2 separate regions of the Homo sapiens genome follow, and region 1 is linked to region 2. The links come from fine-mapping of genetic effects on gene expression. A gene starts in region 2. The other region holds a variant in brackets. All regions are shown on one strand. Distances are from middle to middle.

Region 1 (5,378 bases), 30 kb before region 2:
AAGAGAGTGGGACCAGAACCTGCTAGAATGTATGCAGGTATGTATTCATTTATTTAGAGATGGGGTCTCACTATGTTACCCAGGCTGGTTTCTAACTCCTGGGCTCAAGTGATCCTTCCACCTCAGCCTCCCAAAGTGCTAGGATTACAGGCATGAGCCACCACACCTGGCCCAGAATGTATTTATATAGTTACAGAAAAATATGCAGGGGGCATCGGTCAGCAACAGAGAATGGTAAAAAGGATGTCATCAAAGGCGAAGATGGGAGTGCCTATCAAAGCACTGTCCAGGGAGTCCATGTCTGTGCAGACTCTCTTATTTTGATGCCGGTAAGCAGAAGACCCCAATAACTGGAGTGACCATCTAATTTACTGTACCCCTGTAATCCCAGCACTTTGGGAGGCTGAGGTGGACAGATCAGTTGAGGCCAAGAGTTCGAGACCAGCCTGGCCAACATGGTGAAACCTCATCTCTACTAAAAAACACAAAAATAGGCCGGGTGCAGTAGCTCACACCTGTAATCCCAGCACTTTGGGAAGCCGAGGCAGGCAGATCATGAGGTCAGGAGTTCGAGAACAGCCTGACCAACATGGTAAAACCCCATCTCTACTAAAAGTACAAAAATTAGCCAGGCATGGTGGCACACGCCTGTAGTCCCAGCTACTCAGGAGGCTGAGGCAGGAGAATCACTCGAACCTAGGAGTCTGAGGTTGCAGTGAGCTGAGATCGTGCCACTGCACTCCAGCCTGGGCGACAGAGCAAGACTCCATCTCAAAAAACAAACAAACAAACAAAAACCACAAAAATTAGCCAGGTGGAGAGGTGCATGCCTGCAATCCCAGCTGTTCAGGAGGCTGAGGCACAAGAATCACTTGAACTAAGGAGGCGGAGGTTGCGGTAAGCTGAGATTGCGCCACTGCACTCCAGCCTGGGTGACAGAGTGAGACTCCATCTCAAAAACAAAAAATAATAATAATTTACTGTCCAAACCCAGCCACGTTGACTGCAAAAGGGGCATTATTAATCACTGTGCTAGGACAGCAAACCAGGACTGTCTCAAGCAATCAGAGCATGTGACCACCTACCTCAACTAATTTATCCTAAATTTTTGCTCTCACTGCAGCCTTCAGATTATATCAGATGTGCCTAAGACATACATTTTTAAATGTACTAACATTACTAAAAACTGAAATGCTTCTTACAATTGATGGGGGCATTAAATATCACGCTTTTTTTGGCCCCTAACCATTTATTAATTTGATAGTATACTTTATAAACAATAACATCTTGAAATCGAGGATACAAAGTAATTTGGCTTCCCATGTGGTATGACTTGAAGGAAAATTCATGGGTTGGAGGGTAGAAATGCCCTGTCACTAGGCAATTGACTTCCACCAGAAGGAAAATAAGCAGGTATTCTGGTTTTAAGTATTAGTATCAGCTGGGCACGGTAGCTCACACCTGTAGTTCCAGCCCTTTGGGAGGCTGAAGCGGGTAGATCACCTGAGGTAAGGAGTTCAAGACCAGCCTAGCCAACATGGTGAAACCCTGTCTTTACTAAAAATATAAAAGTTAGCTGGGCGTGGTGGTGCACGCCTGTAATTCCAGCTACTTGGGAGGCTGAGGCAGGAGAATTGCTTGAACCTGGGAGGTGAAGGTTGCAGTGAGCCAAGATTGTGCCACTGCACTCCAGCCTGGGTGACAGAGTCAAAAAAAAGAAAAAAACCTTTAGTCTCTTGTGAACTTGGTTAGTTTGAATTGGTAACATACGACTGGGTCTACAAGGCCAAAGTCCAGATCCAGGACTAGGGTGAATTTATTAATACTAAGATCATTCTGTCCCACGGGAACCTGTTTGGGAAGTCTCCCAATTTTACTCAGAGGACAACCCTCAGTGTCACCACGGGCACCACCGTGACCCTTCCCCATGTGAAAGGAAAGAGGCAGTAAGGCAAGGATTAAGGTCTGTTTAGGTCTGTTGGGATTAAAAGGCGAAGGAGACATTAACATGGAAATGGGGCTGAAAGTAAAACTTGAATGAGACATGTATAGGCCACAAATAATCAGAAGAAGTGATTTGGGTTGTATCCAATATCACTACAGTTCAGATAAACTGCCAGAGGTAGGAAGTGCAGTTGACCAAGAAGTTGTAGGCATGTGAACAGGCTTCACTCTAAGTGCCAAGTTTGATAAACTAGTCTAGGTGGCTC[G/A]GTGTTTGCAGCTTTTTTGGAATAAAAGCAGTCATTGGGAAAAAGTGCTGTGATGGATTAGCCACATCTGCTATTGGCTTAGAAGGGAGCGGGGCATGGAATTAAAGCACATTTATATTGGAAGTATTATAATACGTTATTAAAGATGTGTCTCTTCAACAAAATAAACAACAGTGAGATAGTAATACCTAAAATGAGAAAAACAGGTGAAAACAACTTACTTATTTTGTCCAATTGTCTCAAAATCTTTCACAATAATCCCAAGGGAAGATGAAAAGTCCAGTGGTATACCCCTCAAGTCAAACTCCAAAATCTGTTCACAGAAAGGTTTTGAAAAAAGAGAAAAAAAAAGGCTGTTAGAAGGAGCAGAGATTACACTAAGATGCACCAGTACTACATGTTGGGTCATTATTTTCACCAATGACAATCTTTTGAAGTTATGCAGAAATGATTAAATTCTAAACCTGAAGGCAGCTGAGGGGGCAGGAAAGCAAACCAGATGTCGACTTAGAGGACCTGTAGACAACTCCTGGCTTCCTGCTTTCTAGGTTCTGTGGCTTCAACCAGGTGACCACACCCCTGCTTCATACTCAAGAGCTGGACTCAACGACTACCACAACTGCTGCAAGAATAAAATGCAGGGTGTTGTTCTCACTCATAAGTGGGAATTGAACAATGAGAACACTTGGACACAGGATGGGGAACATCACACACTGGGGCCCGTTGTGGGGTGGGGGGAGGGGGGAGGGATAGCATTAGGAGATACACCTAATGTAAATGATGAGTTAATGGGTGCAGCACACCAACATGGCACATGTATACATATGTAACAAACCTGCACTTTGTGCACATGTACCCTAGAACTTAAAGTATAATAATAACAAAAATAAAAAAATTAAAAAAGAATAAAATGCAGGGTATATGTGAAAACATTTTCTTCAATGGCTAGTTTTAAATTATCTGCTCTTCTTAATCATACTACTATCAAACAAAGAAGATGAATAATCTAAGAAAACATTTTCTAAAATGCCTCTCATTTTAAGTTCCACCATGGTCGGTCAATGCTATAATATACCGACCTTTCTGAGACTCTCATTTTAATGCAGTAAGTTGCTTCCTAATGACAAAAGTAAAAAAAAAAGATTGATAAAGCGTCACTGATGCCTTTGACTGATTAGGTAATAATTAAATGATGACTTGATCCTCCTTGTAGTGGGCTTGGAATGGAAGGAAAACTTGTTTCAGAACTTCTTAAAAAATTATTTTTAGCACTTCTAAAAAAAAACAAGTTCTCAGTCTCCTCAGTAGCTGGGGATTACAGGTGTGTACCACCATACCCAGCTAATTTTTTTTTTGAGACAGAGTCTTGCCCTGTTGCCCAGGCTAGAGTGCAGTGGCACAATTTCAGCTCACAGCAACCTCCACTTCCCGGGTTCAAGCAATTCTCCTGTCTCAGCCTCCCGAATAGCTGGGATTACAGGCGCCTGCCACCATGCCCTGCTAATTTGTGTATTTTTAGTAGAGACAGGGTTTCACCATGTTGGCCAGGCTGGTCTCGAACTCCTGACCTCATGATCCACCCGCCTTGACCTCCCAAAGTGCTGGGATTATAGGCGTGAGCCACCGCACCTGGACAATTTTTGTAGTTTTAATAGAAACAGGGTTTCACCATGTTGGCCAGGCTGGTCTCAAACTCCTGACCTCATGTGATCTACCCGTCTTGGCCTCCCAAAGTGCTGGGATTACAGGCATGTGCCACCACACGTGGCCTCAGAGCTTCTCTTAGAACACACCCAGCCTGGGAATGGTGGCTCATACCTGTAACTCCAGCACTTTGGGAGGCTGAGGCAAGGAGTTCAAGACCAGCCTGGACAACTTAGATTCTGTCTCTGTGAAAAATTTAAAAATCAGCAGAGCGCAGTGGTGTGTGCCTGTAGTCCCAGCTGCTTGGGAGGCTGAGTGGGGAGGATTGCTTGAGCCCAGTTAGTTATGGCTGCAGTTAGTTATGACTGTGCCATTACACTCTGGCCTGGGTGGCAGAGGAAGACCCTGTCTCAAAAAAGAAAAAAAAGAGCCGGGCGCAGTGGCTCATGCCTGTAATCCCAGCACTTTGGGAGGCCAAGGCAGATGGATCACCTGAGGTCAGGAGTTCGAGACCAGCCTGACCAACATGGTGAAATCCCATCTCTACTAAAAATACAAAATTAGCCAGGCGTAGTGGCATATGCCTGTAATCCCAGCTACCTGGGAGGCTGAGGAAGGAGAATCACTTGAACCCAGGAGGCGGAAGTTGCAGTGAGCCGAGATCGCACCATTGCACTCTAGCCTGGGCAACAAGAGCAAAACTCCATCTTAAAAGAAAAAAGAAAAAAAAGAACACACCCAGCACCAGCAATCCCAGTGGGTTTGGGGTTGACATTTCATTTGTGTTTGGTTTCAATTATAAAACAGTTTACTTGATAAGTACATCTGCAATATGAAAGGAAAGAAAAAAAAAACATGTTGGAAACAAAATGGAATAAGATGGCTGATTCCCTGCAGAGGACATGCCAGCTCGCATGACAGCACATCTCTCTCTGCCATTGGTCACGTGGCTTGATCTCAATCTCAAATTTGAAGAGATGAGTTGGGATGATTCAAAATCTGAAGTAGGAAGCACTCTCACATAAATGCATTTTTTATTTGCTTTATTCTTGGAGTTCTGTCAGGTGCTAGGAATCCACAATGACCAACCCAAGGGGCCTCTTGCTCTCATGGAGCTTGTAGTCCAGCTGGCTGTGTTCTGGATTCTGGGGAAATTACAGATAAGTGGAATTCCCTCTCAACCTGCCTGAGACCTGCTGGGCGTTTCAGAAAGGCATTAAAAAGGCTGGGCAGAGTGGCTGACGCCTGTAAACTCAGCACTTTGGGAGGCCAAGATGGGAAAATGGCTTGAGACCAGGAACTCAAGACCAGCCTGGGCAACATAGCAGGATGTAATCTCTACAAATGTTTTTTAAAATTAGCTGGGCATGGTGGCTTATACCTGTAGTCCCAGCTATTCAGGAGGCTAAAGCAGGGCTATCGCTTGGCCCTGGGAGATCGAGGCTGTAGTAAGATATGATTACACCACTGCATTCCAGCCTGGGTGACAGAGCGAGACCCTGTCTTTTTTTAATTAAAAAAAAA
Region 2 (5,378 bases):
CAAAATTGGGAACACACCTGTAAAGGGTTTGCCATCACCAGGATTTTAAACCACCGACATAGACTGAAAGCAAGAAGAGTGCTGTGTTTGTTGCTATATCCCCTCCAGCACCTAAGGCAATGCATTTCACATCTTGCTGAGAGCAGCTAACTCAATACCTGGAACTAGAAAATTAGAATCTAAAAGACGGAAGGCATCTAAAGACCAGTTCCCATCATGCCACAGCTGAGAAATTGGAGACCCAGGTGGTTAAATCAGATATTGAGTTAATGTCAGCTGGAATGCAGATGTTCCTACTCTGAGTTGAGTGCCCTTTCCTCTGTCAGGTTGCTTGTTAGCTAAATGAATGAATGACTTTACCACTCGATTTGTATGAAAAAAGGAGGCCAGAAAAGAGACTAAAGTTAAATGTGTAATTGTTTGTATAGACTATATTTGCCAACTTAACTGAAGTTTTCCACTTTCAATTGATTGTTTGCATTCATTGACTTAGATATATTTTTCATCATTTAAAATGTTTCATCAATGCATACAAACTCCAGACAAATAACAAGTCAGATTTCAATATAGTATTAACTCCAATTCCTCTATAATCTATAATACTTAAATAATTACATGATCGGACTGATCCAAATATATTTTAATGTCTTTATATGTCAATGATGAAGGATGTAAAATCTTCATATTATGTCTCTATTATGTAACTGCTTCAAGAAAACAAAAAATTAATAAAACCTAACACATGTAAATAAACTCTGACATAACGTGAGTCCATGATATTCACTAGCCAGATTTTCAAACCTCATTGTCCTTTAAGAGCCCAATTTTAAGCTGGGCGTGGTAGTTTACGCCTGTAATCCCAACACTTTGGGAAGCTGAGATGGGAAGAAAGTTTGAGCAAGGGAATTATAACCAGCCTGGGCAACATAGCAAGACCCAGTCTTATTCAAAAAAATTTTTTTAAATTTTTTTTAAATCCAATTTTTGCCCTTTAGATTTTTTTTTTAACCAACCAACAATTTGCCAGCTTTTTTTTTTTTTTTTTTTTTTTTTTGAGACGGAGTCTCACTCTGTTGCCCAGGTTGGAGTGCAGTAGCATGATCTCGGCTCACTGCAACCTCCTCCTCCTGGGTTGAAGCAATCCTCCTGCCTCAGCCTCCCGAGTAGCTGGGATTATAGGCATGTGCCACCATGCCCGGCTAATTTTTGTATTTTTAGTAGAGATGGGGTTTTGCCATGTTGGCCTGGCTGGTCTCGAACTCCTGCCCTCATGTGATCCACCCACCTCAGCCTCCCAAAGTTCTGGGATTACAGGCAGAAGTCACCACACCCAGCCAGCCAGCTTTGAGTTTCATTTCTTTCATTTTCTTGCTCATCCTCAGAGAGAGAGGTTTAAGAAGAGAAATAAAGGGGAAAAACGGGAAACAGAAAGGCGAAAGGTATAGATGCCTCAGGAACTGACAGGGAGTAGCAGTCAGGCTCCTGGAAGAAACGAGAAATGTAGCAAGGCATGGTCAGGAAACACATGTCTATCCATGCTCCCACTCTCTCTGCCTTTCCCTCTCTTTCCCATCCCTCTTGCCAAGAAGTGAGTTGGCAGTCTTACCAATGACAAACAAAATAGATAAAGCCTCCACACTGAGATTTAGAAACCCCACTTTAGCCAAAACTAAGTCACTTACATCAAATTGTACCATGACACCAAGCATTCCTGTCCCCTCCCCTGCAATGGCAATCAAGTGTCATAGAAAAATAGCCTTTTAAAATTACCATGAGCCTTTTATTTTTATTTATTTTTACACCCAGGCTGGAGTGCAGTGGCGTGATCACGGCTCACTGTAGCCTCAAACTCCTGGGCTCAAGCAATCCTCCTGCCTTGGCCTCCCAAAGTTGGCTCAGGGTTGAGGAGCCACTGTGCTCAGCCAACCATGAGGTTTTTAGAGATGATCTTGTCTAAACCCTTCTCGCCTGTTTTGCAGAAAAGAAAATTGAGATCCCAGAGAAATGAAGTAACTTGCCCAAGGTCATTCAGCAGGCAAGATAGAACTAGATCCCCAAATTGCAAACTAGCTGTCCAGAGTTCTTTCCTCAATGAGCAATTTAAAAGCTACAGAATGTACAAAAAAAGCTCCCCAACAGTTTAGATATAAAAACAATTACAAAGGCACAAAAGGGCAGGAAAACTCAATAAAACTATGAACTTCACCCATCCCACCTCCCAGAAACCCAGTGACAATCAAAGCAGCGTCAGGCTGGTTCAAGGAGTAATGGTGTCTCCAACAATTTAATTGCTCTTCTTCCTCCTTTACCCATTTCTCACAGGCAGAGAAAAAATGCATCTAAGACTACTGAAACTTACTTTGAACCAATACAGATGTTTGTTGATACCTGAAATTTAGTGATTCGCAAATACGTTTTCTGCCAAGAGCTTACAGAAATCACACTCTTAGAGCTAAAACATCAGGTCATTCCATGAGTCTCAAGCCCTGGAGAAAATTAAATGCCTTCCCCAGAAACGGGTCCTCTCCCCTGTCCTGCGCAGGTAACAAACGCTGCTGGAGAGACTTGGCTTCATCAGCTGTCTAAATGCAGACTTTTCAAGAAGGTGACTCAAGAAACTAACATTCCAAAACAGGACTTCAGAAAAAGAAGAAAACTTTTTCTTACCCTTAAAAATGACAGAAACAATAGGATCCGGCTTGCCAAATTTCGTTTTAGGGATATTGCTGGCAGATTCCACAATCACTCGCAGCATGGTTCTTAGCTGGTAGAAAGCAAGTTTCAGCAAACGAAGTGGAGACTAGGGCGCTGGAGCTCCGGGTCGCACCGCCCTGGGAGAGAAGTTCTCTCCCAGTGAAGGGAGGATTTCTCCCAGGGCAAGGAAGGGGAAAAGGCAAAATGGGTGGACCTCTGGCGGATTTTACTGAAGGCAACGTGTAAACTGATACCGAACTCCCCGCGTCTACGCAGTGCCGCAGGCACAGACTTATGAATTCGGGAAATGTGGAAGTGAAAAGGACAAACCCTAAACTAAAAATAATTCCGTGCGACAAATGAAACCAACATGAATTTGGAGCTAAGAAATACGGGTAGGTCAGGAAACCACTAAAATGTTGCTGCCTTTTAGCAATGGTTCGTGAAACTGAATTAATTGATTTTTCCGTCACTGCTTTCATTCTTTTCTGAGTTTCAAGGAGTTTTAAAACTTTAGTCATTATTTGCTTTTGACTTTTCGCTGTTACTTCTCACGCCATTGAACACACCCACTCAGTAACCCTATGTTCAGCTTTTTTAAAGCAGCTAAAGGGTGCCTCTTACTGGACGGCAAACGAATGACAGCGTTTATTTCAAGTAAACGCGATCCAGGCATGGGATATATAAATAATTACATATATGTATAAATAATTATATATATATATATATATATATATATATATATATATATATATATATATATATATATATAAAGGACTGAACATAGAATTTCTTCAAAACCCCTTCAGAGGTGAGAGCTGGGCGCCTAAGTTTTCCCGGCTCTTCAAATGCTGCCAATTGCCTTCAGTGAAAATGGAGAAGTGACTCCCCACTGTTTCTGGACCTACAGCTGCCCATGGTGTCTTTCTGTCCCAGAGGGTGCATGAAGACAGTGCAGCTTGGCTGAGATCACAAGAGGCGGCCTGGGGTTAGTCAGCCAGATCTGAGTGTGAGACTCTGCCTCACCACCCTGAGCTACGTCATCTTAGCAAGTTTCTTTTCTTTTCTTTTCTTTTCTTTTTTTTTTTTGACGGAGTCTCGCTCTGTCACCAGGCTGGAGTGCAGTGTAGCGATCTTGGCTCACTGCAACCTCTGCCTCCCGGGTTCAAGCGATTCTCCTGCCTCAGTCTCCCGAGTAGCTGGGACTACAGGCGTGCGCCACCACACGCAGCTAATTTTTTTTTTTTTTGTATTTTTAGTAGAGACGGGGTTTCACCATGCTGGCAAGGATGGTCTCGATCTCTTGACCTTGTGATCCGCCCGCCTCGGCCTCCGTGGCTTGAGCTTTACTGGCTTGAGCTTTACTGGCTTGAGCCACCGTGCTGGCGAGCAAGTTTCTTAACCCCTCTCTTCCTCAGTTTCCTCATCTATGAACTGGGGATAAAGGCTGTTATAAGATAAAGGTCATAGCATAGGAGCTGGCACAAAGCACACAGTAATTTGCACATGTAAGAAGTTCATGCTTATTTGTGGTCTCACAGCGTTTCTGTTAGTGCAGGCTGACTTTAAATCAGGATCTCGTTATATTTCAGAAGAAAAGGCTAAAACTTGGGATGAAGAAACATTGGGCTTCTTTTTGCTTTAGAACACACATCAAGCAGACCCACCTGTAAATAAACATTTCAAGTACATTGAATAAGCATGACTTAACCTACAAGAATTCTTCTGTCTCCACGAGTTTCTCCAAGGCTTAAAGCAAAGAACCAATTACCCAGTGCTGTGTTCATTATTGTATTTAGTGGACATGTTGGCAGTTTTAGTGGAATATAGAGATTATTACTTTTATTTTATCTGGCTGCTTTCTATTTGCCATTTTTACTGTGAAATATATTTACAGAAAAATGCATACTACATAAACGTGACAGTTTAACAAGCATCCAGGTCAAGACAGAACATTGCCAGTCCTCCAGAAGCCCCTGGAATACCCCATATATCATATCCACCTCCTTCTCCCAGAGGTAACCACTCTCCTGATTTTTTTTTCTTTTTTTAGATGGAGTTTCACTCTTGTTGCCCAGGCTGGATTGAAGTGGGGTGATCGGCTCACTGCCACCTCCACCTCCCGGGTTCAAGCAATTCTCCTGCCTCAGCCTCCCAGGTAGCTGGGATTACAGGCGTGCACTACCACACCCGGCTAATTTTGTATTTTTAGTAGAGACAGGGTTTCACCGTGTTGGCCAGGCTGGTCTCAAACTCCTGACCTCAGGTGATCCATCCACCTCGGCCTCCCAAAGTGCTGGGATTACAGGCATGAGCCACCATGCCTGGCCCACTCTCCTGATTTTTATGGTAATGATTTCCTTGCTTTTCTTTGTAGTTTTTACCGAAAACAACAACAACAAAACAGTTTAGGTTTGCTTGCTCATGACCTTTGTTTGGTGATATAAATTCTTTTGTATGTTATGAACTTTACATACAACACATATATTCATATATATAGGTACACACATACATGTGTTCATACTTTGTGAATTCTTTGCTGTATTATGACTTTATAGAAATGGACTCATACAGAATGGATTCTTTCGTGTTTGACTTCTTTTTTCTCAGTATTATATTGTGAAATTCATTCATGTAGCTCTACTTCCTTCACTCTTGTTGCTATATGGCATTTCATTGTATGA

Evidence for each region. PIP is the estimated chance that this variant, and not a neighbour inherited with it, causes the effect.
Region 1: its variant is the best candidate, but not a certain one, in a credible set for the expression of MYOF in transverse colon (CEDAR, PIP 0.55).

The regions. Positions count from the first base shown.
Region 1 is chr10:93,449,619-93,454,996 of GRCh38, forward strand. It overlaps MYOF (myoferlin), which reads right to left. Exons shown (of 54, transcript NM_013451.4): 3 at 2,432-2,523. Among named protein-coding and RNA genes, the nearest start is that of MYOF, 30 kb to the right of the region's middle. The variant G/A (reference allele first, on the strand shown) is at 2,211.
Region 2 is chr10:93,479,440-93,484,817 of GRCh38, forward strand. It overlaps MYOF (myoferlin), which reads right to left and starts at 2,895. Exons shown (of 54, transcript NM_013451.4): 1 at 2,668-2,895. The coding sequence starts at 2,755.